2 linked regions of the Homo sapiens genome follow. The protein of the gene in region 1 purifies or fractionates together with the protein of each later gene. This does not show direct contact. Each region holds a gene or a part of one and is shown on either strand. Other genes may lie near its edges.

Region 1 (8,065 bases):
AATATTTTAAAAATTTATTACTGAATTTAAAAATATTTTAGAAGTTTTGTAATGGTGGTGTTTTAATATTTTACATAATTAAATATGTACATATTGATTAGAAAAATATAACAAGCAATTTTTCCTGCTAACCCAAAATGTTATTTGTAATCAAATGTGTAGTGATTACACTTGAATTGTGTACTTAGTGTGTATGTGATCCTCCAGTGTTATCCCGGAGATGGATTGATGTCTCCATTGTATTTAAACCAAAATGAACTGATACTTGTTGGAATGTATGTGAACTAATTGCAATTATATTAGAGCATATTACTGTAGTGCTGAATGAGCAGGGGCATTGCCTGCAAGGAGAGGAGACCCTTGGAATTGTTTTGCACAGGTGTGTCTGGTGAGGAGTTTTTCAGTGTGTGTCTCTTCCTTCCCTTTCTTCCTCCTTCCCTTATTGTAGTGCCTTATATGATAATGTAGTGGTTAATAGAGTTTACAGTGAGCTTGCCTTAGGATGGACCAGCAAGCCCCCGTGGACCCTAAGTTGTTCACCGGGATTTATCAGAACAGGATTAGTAGCTGTATTGTGTAATGCATTGTTCTCAGTTTCCCTGCCAACATTGAAAAATAAAAACAGCAGCTTTTCTCCTTTACCACCACCTCTACCCCTTTCCATTTTGGATTCTCGGCTGAGTTCTCACAGAAGCATTTTCCCCATGTGGCTCTCTCACTGTGCGTTGCTACCTTGCTTCTGTGAGAATTCAGGAAGCAGGTGAGAGGAGTCAAGCCAATATTAAATATGCATTCTTTTAAAGTATGTGCAATCACTTTTAGAATGAATTTTTTTTTCCTTTTCCCATGTGGCAGTCCTTCCTGCACATAGTTGACATTCCTAGTAAAATATTTGCTTGTTGAAAAAAACATGTTAACAGATGTGTTTATACCAAAGAGCCTGTTGTATTGCTTACCATGTCCCCATACTATGAGGAGAAGTTTTGTGGTGCCGCTGGTGACAAGGAACTCACAGAAAGGTTTCTTAGCTGGTGAAGAATATAGAGAAGGAACCAAAGCCTGTTGAGTCATTGAGGCTTTTGAGGTTTCTTTTTTAACAGCTTGTATAGTCTTGGGGCCCTTCAAGCTGTGAAATTGTCCTTGTACTCTCAGCTCCTGCATGGATCTGGGTCAAGTAGAAGGTACTGGGGATGGGGACATTCCTGCCCATAAAGGATTTGGGGAAAGAAGATTAATCCTAAAATACAGGTGTGTTCCATCTGAATTGAAAATGATATATTTGAGATATAATTTTAGGACTGGTTCTGTGTAGATAGAGATGGTGTCAAGGAGGTGCAGGATGGAGATGGGAGATTTCATGGAGCCTGGTCAGCCAGCTCTGTACCAGGTTGAACACCGAGGAGCTGTCAAAGTATTTGGAGTTTCTTCATTGTAAGGAGTAAGGGCTTCCAAGATGGGGCAGGTAGTCCGTACAGCCTACCAGGAACATGTTGTGTTTTCTTTATTTTTTAAAATCATTATATTGAGTTGTGTTTTCAGCACTATATTGGTCAAGATAGCCAAGCAGTTTGTATAATTTCTGTCACTAGTGTCATACAGTTTTCTGGTCAACATGTGTGATCTTTGTGTCTCCTTTTTGCCAAGCACATTCTGATTTTCTTGTTGGAACACAGGTCTAGTTTCTAAAGGACAAATTTTTTGTTCCTTGTCTTTTTTCTGTAAGGGACAAGATTTGTTGTTTTTGTAAGAAATGAGATGCAGGAAAGAAAACCAAATCCCATTCCTGCACCCCAGTCCAATAAGCAGATACCACTTAAGATAGGAGTCTAAACTCCACAGAAAAGGATAATACCAAGAGCTTGTATTGTTACCTTAGTCACTTGCCTAGCAGTGTGTGGCTTTAAAAACTAGAGATTTTTCAGTCTTAGTCTGCAAACTGGCATTTCCGATTTTCCAGCATAAAAATCCACCTGTGTCTGCTGAATGTGTATGTATGTGCTCACTGTGGCTTTAGATTCTGTCCCTGGGGTTAGCCCTGTTGGCCCTGACAGGAAGGGAGGAAGCCTGGTGAATTTAGTGAGCAGCTGGCCTGGGTCACAGTGACCTGACCTCAAACCAGCTTAAGGCTTTAAGTCCTCTCTCAGAACTTGGCATTTCCAACTTCTTCCTTTCCGGGTGAGAGAAGAAGCGGAGAAGGGTTCAGTGTAGCCACTCTGGGCTCATAGGGACACTTGGTCACTCCAGAGTTTTTAATAGCTCCCAGGAGGTGATATTATTTTCAGTGCTCAGCTGAAATACCAACCCCAGGAATAAGAACTCCATTTCAAACAGTTCTGGCCATTCTGAGCCTGCTTTTGTGATTGCTCATCCATTGTCCTCCACTAGAGGGGCTAAGCTTGACTGCCCTTAGCCAGGCAAGCACAGTAATGTGTGTTTTGTTCAGCATTATTATGCAAAAATTCACTAGTTGAGATGGTTTGTTTTAGGATAGGAAATGAAATTGCCTCTCAGTGACAGGAGTGGCCCGAGCCTGCTTCCTATTTTGATTTTTTTTTTTTTTAACTGATAGATGGTGCAGCATGTCTACATGGTTGTTTGTTGCTAAACTTTATATAATGTGTGGTTTCAATTCAGCTTGAAAAATAATCTCACTACATGTAGCAGTACATTATATGTACATTATATGTAATGTTAGTATTTCTGCTTTGAATCCTTGATATTGCAATGGAATTCCTACTTTATTAAATGTATTTGATATGCTAGTTATTGTGTGCGATTTAAACTTTTTTTGCTTTCTCCCTTTTTTTGGTTGTGCGCTTTCTTTTACAACAAGCCTCTAGAAACAGATAGTTTCTGAGAATTACTGAGCTATGTTTGTAATGCAGATGTACTTAGGGAGTATGTAAAATAATCATTTTAACAAAAGAAATAGATATTTAAAATTTAATACTAACTATGGGAAAAGGGTCCATTGTGTAAAACATAGTTTATCTTTGGATTCAATGTTTGTCTTTGGTTTTACAAAGTAGCTTGTATTTTCAGTATTTTCTACATAATATGGTAAAATGTAGAGCAATTGCAATGCATCAATAAAATGGGTAAATTTTCTGACTTATGTGGCTGTTTTTGACTTCTGTTATAGGATATAAAGGGGATCAATAAATGACATCTTTGAAAGTGGCTAAGCATATTGTATTTGAACATCAGTAGAGTACTAGAGACAATTTCATTCTTCACACAAATCTCCATACTGGAAATGAATAGGGTTTGGCAGGGAATACTTCCCAAGAATGCAGTGTCCAGGGTCCTTACTTCACATCATCTGGATCTGACCCTTTGAAAGAGGTAGAAGACTTCTGAGACCGGCTAATTAAGCTTTGTTTCCTCATATGTTTTGCCAGATAGCAGTAGCAGAATGAAAAGATGAGTAACCACAGGAAGCTGCTATTTTTCCCCTCCTTTCAAACTGTACTGTTAGAGTCATGGTCCTTTTTACAGAAGGAACCTCTCATCAGATTCTGTTGATTCTAAAGTGAATAGAATTTCTCCCGATAAAGAAATAGGGGTTTGTTTCGATTAATGACTGCAGGTCTCTGAGTAAATGCTCTATTTGATTTTTTTTTTCGGCCCGTGTGTCTACCTTATGGCCCAAGTCTACCTTATGGTGGCCATTAATTCATTTTGGGCTCCTGCAGCCTTAGTTGGGATATAGAAATGAGAAACACTCAGAAATACCCTTTTGGACCACAACCAAGAGAAATAACCAATAGTCTTTTCTCCCAGTGGTAAGGAAGTCAGAATACATTGATCTAGACTGCAACAACATATATATATATATCAGATTCCGCCCCCCCGCAATACATGAATGTATAGTAAATTAGTGTGAACTCACTGAACACTCCTCAGTTTTGGTGAGAGACTATATCTGGCCTCTTTCAAGCAAAGGAAAGCCATGTAAAACAGCGCTGCTGTCAGCCTTAACTTCCAGACGATCGAGTTAATTTACTAACTTCTCAGTGACCTGTTTTTTTTTTTTTTTTAATCTCAGTTATATTTTCTTCCTTGGGCTAAATCAGATATTTGCATAGCCCCCAAAGTAGTAATTGGATAGTCTTGGGGGAAATATGCATTTCAGTGGTGAAAACCCCTGTAAATTCAATATATTTGGCTTTTGTGGAAAATTTTCCTCATGGGGTGAAGTCTAAGCCTTAGTTTCTGTATTATCATGAGAGATGACACCAGCTGCTTAGCACAAGGTGGCGCCAATGAGCTTTAGAATAAGTTGGGCTTGACCACTTGGGCCATTGTTTTCCTGCTTCCTCCCTTCAAGCCTCACCTCCCCAGCTCCCAGCTTCTACTGAACAAGGCTGAAAACCCACTCTATTGCAGGGAAAGGGAAAGATTAATGAAAAATGTCAGTTTCTTAAGTCAGCACTGGTGAAACTTTCCTAAAACAGGAATGGCGTTTGCTGAGTTTTCTCTGGGGTCTCTGCTTTCTGCAGCTAGCTTCCCTGCTTGACTGCCTAGAAGGCCTCTGCTTTCGGGTTTCCATCTCTTTCCCCTCCAGAGGACCCTACAGCCTAGGCGGGAGGTGGTTAAGGCTTCTGGCTGCTGTGCAATGGGGCCATCTGTGTTTGATCAATCCTGGCGGAAAGGAGGGGGTGGGGGTTGTAAAGAGAACTGAAAGCATTCCAGAGTAGTGAGAGAGACCCAGAGATCAGGAGAGAAGGCACCGCCCCCACCCCGCCTCCAAAGCTAACCCTCGGGCTTGAGGGGAAGAGGCTGACTGTACGTTCCTTCTACTCTGGCACCACTCTCCAGGCTGCCATGGGGCCCAGCACCCCTCTCCTCATCTTGTTCCTTTTGTCATGGTCGGGACCCCTCCAAGGACAGCAGCACCACCTTGTGGAGTACATGGAACGCCGACTAGCTGCTTTAGAGGTGAGGGACCCCTTTCTCTTCTAGCCCCGCCTAGAAGGATTCCAGGGCTATTGGTTCAACCAGTTTGTTAGGGATCTGGGGATAACAAGAAAGGGCTCTGTTAGAGTCTACAGAAAATTCTCTCTTAATAAGAGGACCTTCGGAATGACAAGCCCTCCTCTTACCCCACATAGAACAATTCCAAAGCAAATCGACTTTTGCGTTTTACCTCTGGGATTAGATAGAATAAGGGGGCAGAGTGGAAACGAGAGCCAAAATTGTGGGGCTGCATCTCCAGAGAAGGTGATGATTCTGTTGAAGTTGGAGGTTCCCGGGGAATCTATAACTTCCTGTCTTTTTAACAGGTTGAGATCCGTAGCATTTTAGTGTCCGAGAGGATAATTGCTAAGGGAGCAGAGACCTCTTCACACCTTCATGCGCTTAGACCTGCCTAGAGGCTCAGATGGCTCAGTGGCACTGCTCACAGAGAACACAGGCTGGAGGACATGGAGTCGGGGTAGGGGCCTAGGTGAATCTCAGCTAGGCTCTTTGCACATTTAGCACCTCTGCACATCTGGTTTCCTTTTCTGCAGGAGTGGAAGGGGATATTGAAGCCTGGCTGAGTTTGCTCTTTTTTTCCCATTCCTGACTCCCGAGTTGGGCCTCTCCCTGCCTGGGAGTTGTAACCCTGCAGCCTCCCTCCTGATCCCCCATCCCTTCAGGAACGGCTGGCCCAGTGCCAGGACCAGAGTAGTCGGCATGCTGCTGAGCTGCGGGACTTCAAGAACAAGATGCTGCCACTGCTGGAGGTGGCAGAGAAGGAGCGGGAGGCACTCAGAACTGAGGCCGACACCATCTCCGGGAGAGTGGATCGTCTGGAGCGGGAGGTAGACTATCTGGAGACCCAGAACCCAGCTCTGCCCTGTGTAGAGTTTGATGAGAAGGTGACTGGAGGCCCTGGGACCAAAGGCAAGGGAAGAAGGAATGAGAAGTACGATATGGTGACAGGTAAATAATCTGAAAGCAGGCCCCTAACTCTTCTCAGAACCGATATTCTTCCTTCCTTGCTTCTTACTCTTTTTTTCGCTTTGTCCCAGTCCATTGTGGCTCTGTCTTCTGGAATCTGTTTTAGGGAAACCTCTGTAATGCCAGGTCTATTAAGGAGAGGTTCTGGGGATCCAGGCCGCTGTGGTACCCGCTCTTTCTCAATTCTCCCTAAGATTGGAGGCAACCACTGGGCAAATGCTCACTATTCTCCAGATCACCCACCCTGGGGGAGTTCCTGCTGGAGGCATCTAATTCTTGCCTCTATTTCCTTTTCCTGTGCTTTTCTCATCAGACTGTGGCTACACAATCTCTCAAGTGAGATCAATGAAGATTCTGAAGCGATTTGGTGGCCCAGCTGGTCTATGGACCAAGGATCCACTGGGGCAAACAGAGAAGATCTACGTGTTAGATGGGACACAGAATGACACAGCCTTTGTCTTCCCAAGGCTGCGTGACTTCACCCTTGCCATGGCTGCCCGGAAAGCTTCCCGAGTCCGGGTGCCCTTCCCCTGGGTAGGCACAGGGCAGCTGGTATATGGTGGCTTTCTTTATTTTGCTCGGAGGCCTCCTGGAAGACCTGGTGGAGGTGGTGAGATGGAGAACACTTTGCAGCTAATCAAATTCCACCTGGCAAACCGAACAGTGGTGGACAGCTCAGTATTCCCAGCAGAGGGGCTGATCCCCCCCTACGGCTTGACAGCAGACACCTACATCGACCTGGCAGCTGATGAGGAAGGTCTTTGGGCTGTCTATGCCACCCGGGAGGATGACAGGCACTTGTGTCTGGCCAAGTTAGATCCACAGACACTGGACACAGAGCAGCAGTGGGACACACCATGTCCCAGAGAGAATGCTGAGGCTGCCTTTGTCATCTGTGGGACCCTCTATGTCGTCTATAACACCCGTCCTGCCAGTCGGGCCCGCATCCAGTGCTCCTTTGATGCCAGCGGCACCCTGACCCCTGAACGGGCAGCACTCCCTTATTTTCCCCGCAGATATGGTGCCCATGCCAGCCTCCGCTATAACCCCCGAGAACGCCAGCTCTATGCCTGGGATGATGGCTACCAGATTGTCTATAAGCTGGAGATGAGGAAGAAAGAGGAGGAGGTTTGAGGAGCTAGCCTTGTTTTTTGCATCTTTCTCACTCCCATACATTTATATTATATCCCCACTAAATTTCTTGTTCCTCATTCTTCAAATGTGGGCCAGTTGTGGCTCAAATCCTCTATATTTTTAGCCAATGGCAATCAAATTCTTTCAGCTCCTTTGTTTCATACGGAACTCCAGATCCTGAGTAATCCTTTTAGAGCCCGAAGAGTCAAAACCCTCAATGTTCCCTCCTGCTCTCCTGCCCCATGTCAACAAATTTCAGGCTAAGGATGCCCCAGACCCAGGGCTCTAACCTTGTATGCGGGCAGGCCCAGGGAGCAGGCAGCAGTGTTCTTCCCCTCAGAGTGACTTGGGGAGGGAGAAATAGGAGGAGACGTCCAGCTCTGTCCTCTCTTCCTCACTCCTCCCTTCAGTGTCCTGAGGAACAGGACTTTCTCCACATTGTTTTGTATTGCAACATTTTGCATTAAAAGGAAAATCCACTGCTCCTCTCCTGTGTTTGTTTGGGGTAGCCCTCAGATCAAACTTCCCCCTGACCATCCAGTTTCTCCCTCCCAACCCATCCCCACTCCTTGAGCCATATTAAAGACTTGGGCGGGGCTCCCTTTGCTGAGGAAGAGTTTACTGTGAGGCGCCTGGGGGAGGTGGCAGAATCCCGCCACTTTAGGAGGCTGGACGAAAGGCCTCCTTCCACACCCACCGCCATCCACAGCAGCCAATCCACAGCAGCCATCCTAGAACCTCAGTGGCACCGTGCCTCTGGCTGTGAGACACTGGGGCCCAGGGCAGAGATTCCAGTTCCGATTCTCAGAGGATTTTGAACTACAAAATGCATGTTAGTTGCATTGCATTCTAGTGTGGAAACCAGAGCCCTGAATGCCTGTGTTTTTAGTAAGAACTGAAGTCTCCCCTCTAAAGTGGACTCTGCCCCGCACCCCAGACCTCCACTCCCACCTCCAGCGTTGTGCTCCTGCAGGGCCAGGTTGCA
Region 2 (8,307 bases), on another chromosome or scaffold:
TGGCCTCAGAGGTATGTAGTTGGAAAAGGAAGATTTTAATAGTCTTTTCAGATACTTGTATGTTCTTTGATACTACACACAATCTTGACAAGAGGTGATTTCTTAAGTTGCACTGTGGAATCTAACACCAAATCAACAAACGTTTCATACTGTTACATTATAATTCATTGGTCTATTTTGAACTATGAATGGACTTTGTAACTTCACACACCTGGAAAACTTGGAAAAAACTGACAGAGGTATGATCTTCCATATGTTGACCCTTTTCATTCTACAGTATTAAGATGCCACATTTCATTAATGTCACTGTCTCTTCAGAAAAGTTCTTACTTTAGTGAAGTTGTCAAGCTAATGGTAGCAGATACTAGTTTTGTAAAACTTTTTTCATGCTGGAAAGCCCAAATTTTATCACCACCAACAAATATGGTCACTTGTTTCCCTTGAAGTGTCAGGCTAATTTTATTCGTTTTTGCAAAAATGTTGAACACAAATCCAAGTTTGAATTACCAGCTTATCAGCTTTTCTTTCAAGTAAAAATGATATTTCATGAAAGTGTCCAGTTGTTTGGAATACAAATTATCACAAATGCTTTTCCTTGAGACAACTGCTGTACATTGGTATGCAGAAGAGGTTTGTGTAGTATTCCCCACTTTGTCACATGAAATATTGAAAAGATGTGTACTCAAAGGTTAGGATGTACCAGTGTATGAGATTAATCTCTTCAGGTTAATAAATTTTTATTGCATTGTCAGAGACACTAACTTTTTTTTTGAGATGGAGTCTCCGTTGCCCAGGCTGGAGTGCAATAGTGCAATCTCAGCTCACTGACCTCTGCCTCCCGGGTTCAAGCGATTCTCATGTCTCAGCTTCCCAAGTAGCTGGGATTACAGGCATGCGCCACCACACCTGGCCAATTTTTATATTTTTAGTATGGTTTCACCATGTTGGCTAGGCCGGTCTGGAACTCCTGACCTCAAGTGATCTACTCGCCTCCACCTCCCAAAGTGTTGGGATTACAGATGTAAGCTACTGCACTCAGCCATTTATTTATTCATTCATTTATTTATTTATTTAGAGACAGGATCTTGCTCTGTTGCCCAGGGTGAGTGCAGTGACGCCATATCACAGCTCACTACAGCATCAACCTCCCTGGCTCAAGTGATCCTCCTACCTCAGCCTCCCAAGTAGTGGGGACTACAGGTGCACCACCAAGCCCGAATGTTTTGTTTTTATTTTTTAGAGATGGGGGTCCCACAGTTTTGTCCAGGCTGGTCTCTAACACCTGGATGCAAGTGCTTCTCCCACCTTGGCTTCCCAAAGTGCTGATATTACAGGTGTAAGACACTATGCCCGGCCAAAAACCTCTTTTTTGAGACAGGGTTTTGCTCTTGTTGCCCAGGCTGGGGTGCAATGGCGCGATCTTGGCTCACCGCAACCTCGGCCTCCTGGGTTCAAGTGATTCTCCTGCCTCAGCCTCCTGAGTAGCTGTGATTACAGGCATGCGCCAGCACACCCGGCTAATTTTGTATCTTTAGTAGAGATGGGGTTTCCCCATATTGGTCAGGCTGGTCTCAACTCCCGACCACAGGTGATCTGGCCGCCTCAGCCTCTCAAAGTGCTGGGACTACAGGGGTGAGCCACTGCGCCCGGCCATGCTATAGATTTTTATAGGAAGTTAGTGTAGTGGGAAAAGCACGGAAAACTCGAAAGTCATTTTTTTTAAAAGCTTAAATAGAAATTACACTATTGGATATTCTGTCATAATGTCGAAAATGTCAATTTTCTCCAAATTAACCTCTGACTTCAATATAATTACATTTAGTATTACAGCAGGCCTTGGTGGGAGATTGCAAAAACATCCTAAAATATATTCATGTGGAAATACTGAATTTCAAAGAATTCTAGAAACACTGCTAAGAGGGAATTCAACAAATAAATTGCACCCTAAGCCATAGTAGTGAATAATAGATGCAGTAACAGGAAGATCAGAATAGATAGCTCAGAAGCTATCTCACCTACTATGGAAATTAGGTACTTGATTTTTTAAAAAGTGGCTTCAAAAATTACTGGGGAAAGGATAGGTAAGCAGGTAGTGCTGACCAAACTACACTTCGGAGAGAAAAGTGGATTTGGCTCTTTACCTCACCCTATACAGAAAAATTGCTTAAGAGTAAAGCATTTTTTACTTTTTTTTTTTTTTTTTTTTTTTTTTACGTTTTTTACTATAAGCATGAGGGCAATGGGGAGTATCTTGGGACTAGGGAAGTTCGTATTAAGACTTCTTAAAATGCAAACCATAAGGTGAAAAATTTATGGATTTTATCACTTCGTAATCATTATGAGATCAGATCAAGCAAGAACCATCAATGGATGCTAAATCTAGAGAGAATTTTTGACGAAGAGTAAGTACCTGCATAGCCTTAAGGTGCCTCACCACAGTGCATTTTGCAAGAGGAAAACTACCTCTAAGGTGGAGGAACAGCCAATGGAGAGAAAATTACTGTATCCATGTGAAACTTAAGTTGGTAGTCAACTCTAGTATGTGTAACAGAACATTCATAATCTTAGGAAATACACATGGAAGTATTTGTAATGTAACTTTCAAAAACAGTTGATAAAAAATAGGGCAATATTGTAAATGGAGTAAACATGTTAATAGGATTTTGTCATAAAAATTAAGGAAAATTTTACCAATCTTAAAAAGCTTAGTTGGCTAGGATAAAATATTTGCAACATTTAAACCAGAAATTATCTAGAATACAAGAAACTCCTGGAAATCAACCAGAGTAGCCCAGTGGAAAGGTGGGCAAGGATTGAACAGGGAATTTACAGAAGGGTAAACCAGATAGAATGGCTAATCATTTTGTGTAGATTGAGAACAATGCCAAGAGAGGAAAAACAAATAGAATGATAGCTTTTATGCAGTGTCATTTATATACAATTAAAATACATGCGTATCTTCAAAACAGTATTTCAAAATTGCAGCTGCAAAGATATCAGAGGAGGTGTTTATAATTAGGGAGAGGAATGGAAAGTAAAAGGACCCCAAAAATAGAATAAAAGTAGAGAGGGATGCTACACACACATGTCCATGAGCTCAAGAGTTGGATGAATTGAACTCACCAAAGGTCCCTAAGATAAGGGAGGAGAAAGTGACAGCTCCCACGCTCTTAATTTGGCTTAATCTCAATGTGTTCGAGTTTTCATTACAGCTCAGGGTACCAGCCCCCACCTGCTCACTTTCCTACTCATTTATGTTTAAACTTCCTGGCTTTCTCACCACACTTGAACCCTACTCCCGGCACACCTTTGGGCGTGTCAGGAACACGTTCATCACAAACATTTTTTGTGCCACAAAGGGACTTTCCCAGCTTTGGCCAAGAGTACAGGTGCCCATTCCTGAGAGTTTCAGCTTCACATTAAAAAAAAAAAAATGAGACATAATTAAGGGACCATAAAATTCACCCGCTTAAAATGTACAATTCAATAGTTTTTAGTATACTTAGTTGTGCACTCATCATAATCCTAGAATATTTTCATCCAAAAAAGAAAACCTGTACCCATTATTCAGCTTCATTTTTAATCGTGTATATCTCCCCCCAGGAGTGGTAATAAAACTTTCAGGCTGGTCACCTTCCAACGAGAAAAAACATGCAGCCTGGGGCTCCATGGGAACGGGTTATCACTTGGCAGGCCTGGGTAAACAAAAGGCTTGAGCCGGCCCTGCCAAGATGTCTTTTTCAATGTTTTTGAAAAGATAATAAATGTGCATGGCAGTGGTAAAAGTGCCTACTTAGGAGGCAACCCGTTTAGCAGTTTCTTGTGTGTCTTCTCGGAGAGATCCTCCTCAGAGGTTTTTTGTTTTATTTTGCTTTTGAGACAAGGTCTCTGTCGCCCAGGCTGGAGTGCAGTGGCGTGATCACTGCAGTCTCGACCTCCCGGGCTCAAGCGATCTTCCCGCCTCAGCCTCCCAAGTAGCTGGGACCACAGATGAGTCGCCATGCCCAGCTAATTTTTAAAATTTTTTTGTAGAGACGGGGGTCTCGAACTCCTTAGCTCAATCAATCCGCCCGCGTCAGCCTCCCGAAGTGTTGGGATTACAGGCGGGAGCCACCACACCCGGCATCGCGGAGGTTTCAGTCAGCATTATTTACGCCTCAGGAGAAGAGGAACCAAATTGGCTGCGGAGTAGGGTGTCGTTGAAAGGCCTAGGTCGGCCTACGGCGCGTGCCGCTGCCTCTTAGTTGAAGATCGACCCCAATAGCTTGCTGCTGTCCCTCTCTGGGTGACCGCACGCTGAGGGTGGGGCGTCACTAAACACTGATTACCCGTGCGCCTCGAAAACTGGAACCTAACTATGCATGGAGGGCGGGTCCTCTGGCGTCTGCACAGATGTCACTGGCCCAACTGGCACCCACCTGGGGGCCTAGCCAGAAATTGTTCCCAAGGCTGCATTGCTGAGTTTGCATGCAGACACCCAGTGAGTGTAAGCGTGTGCGTGCTGAGTGAGCACGTGTGTGCGCGTTATGTGCTCTGTGTTCACACATTGAGTGAGGATGTGTGTGCACGGTGTCTGAGAAACTGCACCCTACATCTACACACGCTTTGAGTGTGTATCTGCTACTGTGAGAAGATGCATTTACGCTGGGTGTGCACGTTGTGTGTGCATGTTGCATGTAAGCATCGTATGAAGAACTGTGTGCGTACGCACGCCTTCTGTGTGTGCACTGTGTACAGCAGCGTGTAAGGACGCGTGCACGCCCGTACGCGCTGTGTGAGGACTGTTGTGCACATTGCATGCACACGCTACAAGCGCGCGCCGCGTGAGAACCGGTGCGCCTATCGCACGTGCACGCCCTGCGTGCGCTGTGCGTGGAAGCGGTGCGCCTATCGCACGTGCACGCCTTGCGTGCGCTGTGCGTGGTAACCGGTGCGCTTATCGCACGTGCACGCCCTGCGCGCGTGCTGCGTGAGGACGCGTGCGCATGCGGACGCGCGCGGGTTCGGTGCGGCGCGGCGGGCTTGGCAGTGCGCCTGTGCGGCCGGCGCATCCCGATGGAGCGCGGCGGCGGCGGCTCCGGGACGGGATCCCGGCCTGAGGGGACTGCGCGGGGAACCTCTCTCCCAGGGAAGATCGCAGAACCGGGCGCGGTGCGGACCTCTCAGCCCAACTACCGGCCTCAAGGTATTATCCCCAGAGTGTGGCGGGCGCCCGAGGGCTTCGGGTTCCTGTGGGGGGGCGGGCCCGGCGGCCCAGGGCAAAGGTCCTCGAGCGTGGGGGGAAGGGGCACGGCGCAGAGCTGAGATAAACGCCCTTTCCCTGGCCCAGGATCGTCCGGACGTGCATCCAAGGGCCGCACCCCTCTCTGTGCGAGTGGCGGGGTTCTTTCTTGGGGCGACCTGGGTGAGTGGGTACACATGGGGGGTGGCTTAGGGTGGGCGGCAGGTGTGTTTGGGATGGAGGTGCCTGAGGGGGTGCTGCGGGTCCAGTCCCCGTCCTCGAGGAGCAGCCGGCATGGGGGTCGTTAGGATAAACCGAGCGGGGTTCTGGGGTTGCCCCGGCCTCCGCGCGCGCTCTCTCTGCGTTCTGGGAAACGCGCGCGAGCGCCGCTGCAGCCCGCGGCGAAGGTGGCCCAGCTTCGCGCCTCTTGGCGTTTCCAGGGGGCAAAATCGGCGTGTCACCCATTGGCAGAGGCAGATTCGCCCGGGCGGCCAGGCGTCTGCCCCGGACCGGGTGCTCCTCCCGCCCGGATGCGCTCCCTGTCTTGGGAACGCTGCTCAGGTGGCCGGGCCGCGGCCCTCAATCGAGGCAGCGGGGCAAACAAGGCTCTCAGCCCTCGAGGCTGCCGATGCTGGGAGCCATGGAGGGCTGGTCCCTGGCTGCCCAGAAGCCAGCGAGGCAGCGGAGGAGACTGTGAGGACATTTGGCAGGATTTTAGATAAGCAGGTCTGATGCTAACGTTCTGTAAAGTGGTTGCAGGTAGTGCGGGGGTGTAAGCAGCATGGAAACCGATTTCATGCTGTTTTTCCTGACAACAACTTTTTTATTTTTAGTTAATAAGGCAGGCTATTTTTAAAACATTTTTTATTGCAGTCTAATATGCATTTAAAAAACCACACAAAACTATAATTCGATGAATTATCACATAGTGAAGATGGGAGTATTTTATATACGATGGGCCAAGAAAAGGAAAGAAATCAAGAGAAATCTTCTTAAAACACGCTTTTTCACTGGGGTTGAGGGGGCGAGGTAGTATTTTCTGACTGGGCCTTCAGTTGCATCATTCTTAGGAGGAGGAGATAGCTTAAATCATTTCCAGTTTGTATTTTTCATTATGCTATTTTAAAGGCAGAATTCATTAACTGTCACAGGATAACGTTATAACTACCTTTGAAATGTGTGCTTTTGTTTTTATCCTTTTTGCTTGAAACACTCAAGCTGCATCTGCTAGGGAAGAACCTGGAAACTACCCACCAGAACGACCCTCCGTGGCAGAGGCGACCTTGTATAATAAAACACTGAAAAGGAGAGGTTGTTTCAGTTTGCATTTTTATTTGGTTGAGAGCTTAAATAATAGTTTGTTTCGATGTTCTGTTGTACTCATGAGAGGTGGGGAGGGGCGGTATGATTGGGTTTTCAGTGTATCTTGGATTTTATTTGAAGGAACTTAAGGGGTTTTTTTTTTTTTTTTTTTAATGGAAACAAAATTGGGGAAGGGGAGGAGGTACTTTTGCGGGGGAGATTCTTAATAAGTTCTGTTTGGAAACTATTGTAGAATCATTTAATGCACTCTTCTGATATTAAGATTAGCTTAAGGATATCTTCCTTCATTTGAAATTGGAAATATAGAAAAATATGTGTGAAGGTTTAAAATGTGAAATAAGCACCTATGTGCATTAAGGTTGGTATGGTAAAATTGGAATGTTTAATTTAGGTGCCAGGTGATACCACCATTTGTTGTTTGGGGGAGTTAGCAAGGCCAGGTACTTAAGTAAAGTCTCCTTAGAAAAATTATGATTTTGAGGTTTTATAATTATCTGTCCTGGATACTGATCATTCTTGGTTACCCAGGCCCTTAGCATTTGGGACCCATTCCTAATGAGACTTAACCTGCTTTTCTAGAGAGTCAACCATTGTTCCTAAGCTTGGGCTGGGTGCTGTCAAGGCTGCAAAATACAGAAAGACCTGAGATGTTTAGGCTGTCCAACAATTTTGTGTTGCACACTTAGGGGATATGAGTTGGCAAGTGGTTTTCCTGGGAGCTGTGTAAAAGACGGAAAGGAAATACCGCTGGTGGTTTCCTCTAGCAACAGGTTCTTCCGATATTGAAATCCTGTGCATGTTCCCATTACCCCCTAGTGATGCCTTCTTTCTTTCCTTTTAATTACCTCTGAATAGAAATTACCAGATCTACTGTCCATTTTAGTGCTTGTCTGATACACATAGTATAACAAATGAGCAAGTGCTTGTTTCAATCTGCTTAACAACCTTTAACCAGCAGATAGAATCACCAGATCTCAACCATATTTCCTTTCTTTCTTTTTAGATGAAGTCTCACTCTGTTGTCCATGCTGGAGTGCAGTGGCACAATCTTAGCTCACTGCAACTTCTGCGCCACCATGCCCAGGATCCCAGCACTTTGGGAGGCCGAGGCAGGTGGATCACTTGAGGTCAGGAGTTTGAGACCAGTCTGGCTAACATGGTGAAACCCTATCTCTACTAAAAATACGAACATTAGCCGGGCCTGGTGGCGCATGCTTGTAATCGTAGCTACTTGGGAGGCTGAGGCATAGGATCGCTTGAACCCAGGAAGCGGAGGTTGCAGTGAGCTGACCTCGCGCCACTGTACTCCAGCCTGGGTGACAGAGCGAGACTCCGTCTCGAAAGAAAAACAAAATAGGGTGGGGCCTGGAGATAGAGAGTAGGTGGTTATTGGAGACTGCGAAGGGTACTGGGGGGTGGGAAGGAGGTAGGAATGGTTAATGGGTATAAAAAAATAGAATGAATTAATAAGGCCTGGTATTTGATAGCACAACAGGGTAATTATAGTCAATAATAATTTAATTGTTCATTTAAAAATAACTACTAGTATGACTGGATTGTTTGTAACACAAAGGATAAATGCTTGAGGGGGATGGCTAACCTGTTTTGCATGATATGATTATTTCATATTGCATGCCTGTACCAAAACATCTCATGTACCCCAGAAATATATGCACCTACTACCTACTATGTAGCCACAAAAATTAAAAATTGTAAAATAAAAAAAAAAGTAGAGTGGGCCCGAGTAGCAAAGGCATTGGGTC

The links. The genes of interacting proteins can lie anywhere in the genome.
Region 2: the proteins of OLFML3 (region 1) and MAP7D2 purify together in Homo sapiens (affinity purification with mass spectrometry; 2 studies listed by BioGRID and IntAct, with this or other methods). This does not show direct contact.

Annotation. Positions count from the first base shown.
Region 1 is NC_000001.11:113,974,690-113,982,754, forward strand, and holds OLFML3 (olfactomedin-like protein 3 isoform 1 precursor), read left to right. Parts: upstream 1-4,784; 5' UTR 4,785-4,827; coding exon 4,828-4,941; intron 4,942-5,034; exon of another isoform or gene 5,035-5,383; coding exon of another isoform or gene 5,384-5,437; intron 5,438-5,513; exon of another isoform or gene 5,514-5,642; coding exon 5,643-5,928; intron 5,929-6,259; coding exon 6,260-7,080; 3' UTR 7,081-7,564; downstream 7,565-8,065. UniProt on the Homo sapiens protein: Secreted scaffold protein that plays an essential role in dorsoventral patterning during early development. Stabilizes axial formation by restricting chordin (CHRD) activity on the dorsal side.
Region 2 is NC_000023.11:20,113,628-20,121,934, reverse strand, and holds the start of MAP7D2 (MAP7 domain-containing protein 2), read left to right. Parts: upstream 1-5,027; 5' UTR 5,028-5,055; coding exon 5,056-5,185; intron 5,186-5,294; exon of another isoform or gene 5,295-5,404; intron 5,405-8,307. UniProt on the Homo sapiens protein: Microtubule-stabilizing protein that plays a role in the control of cell motility and neurite outgrowth via direct binding to the microtubule. Acts as a critical cofactor for kinesin transport.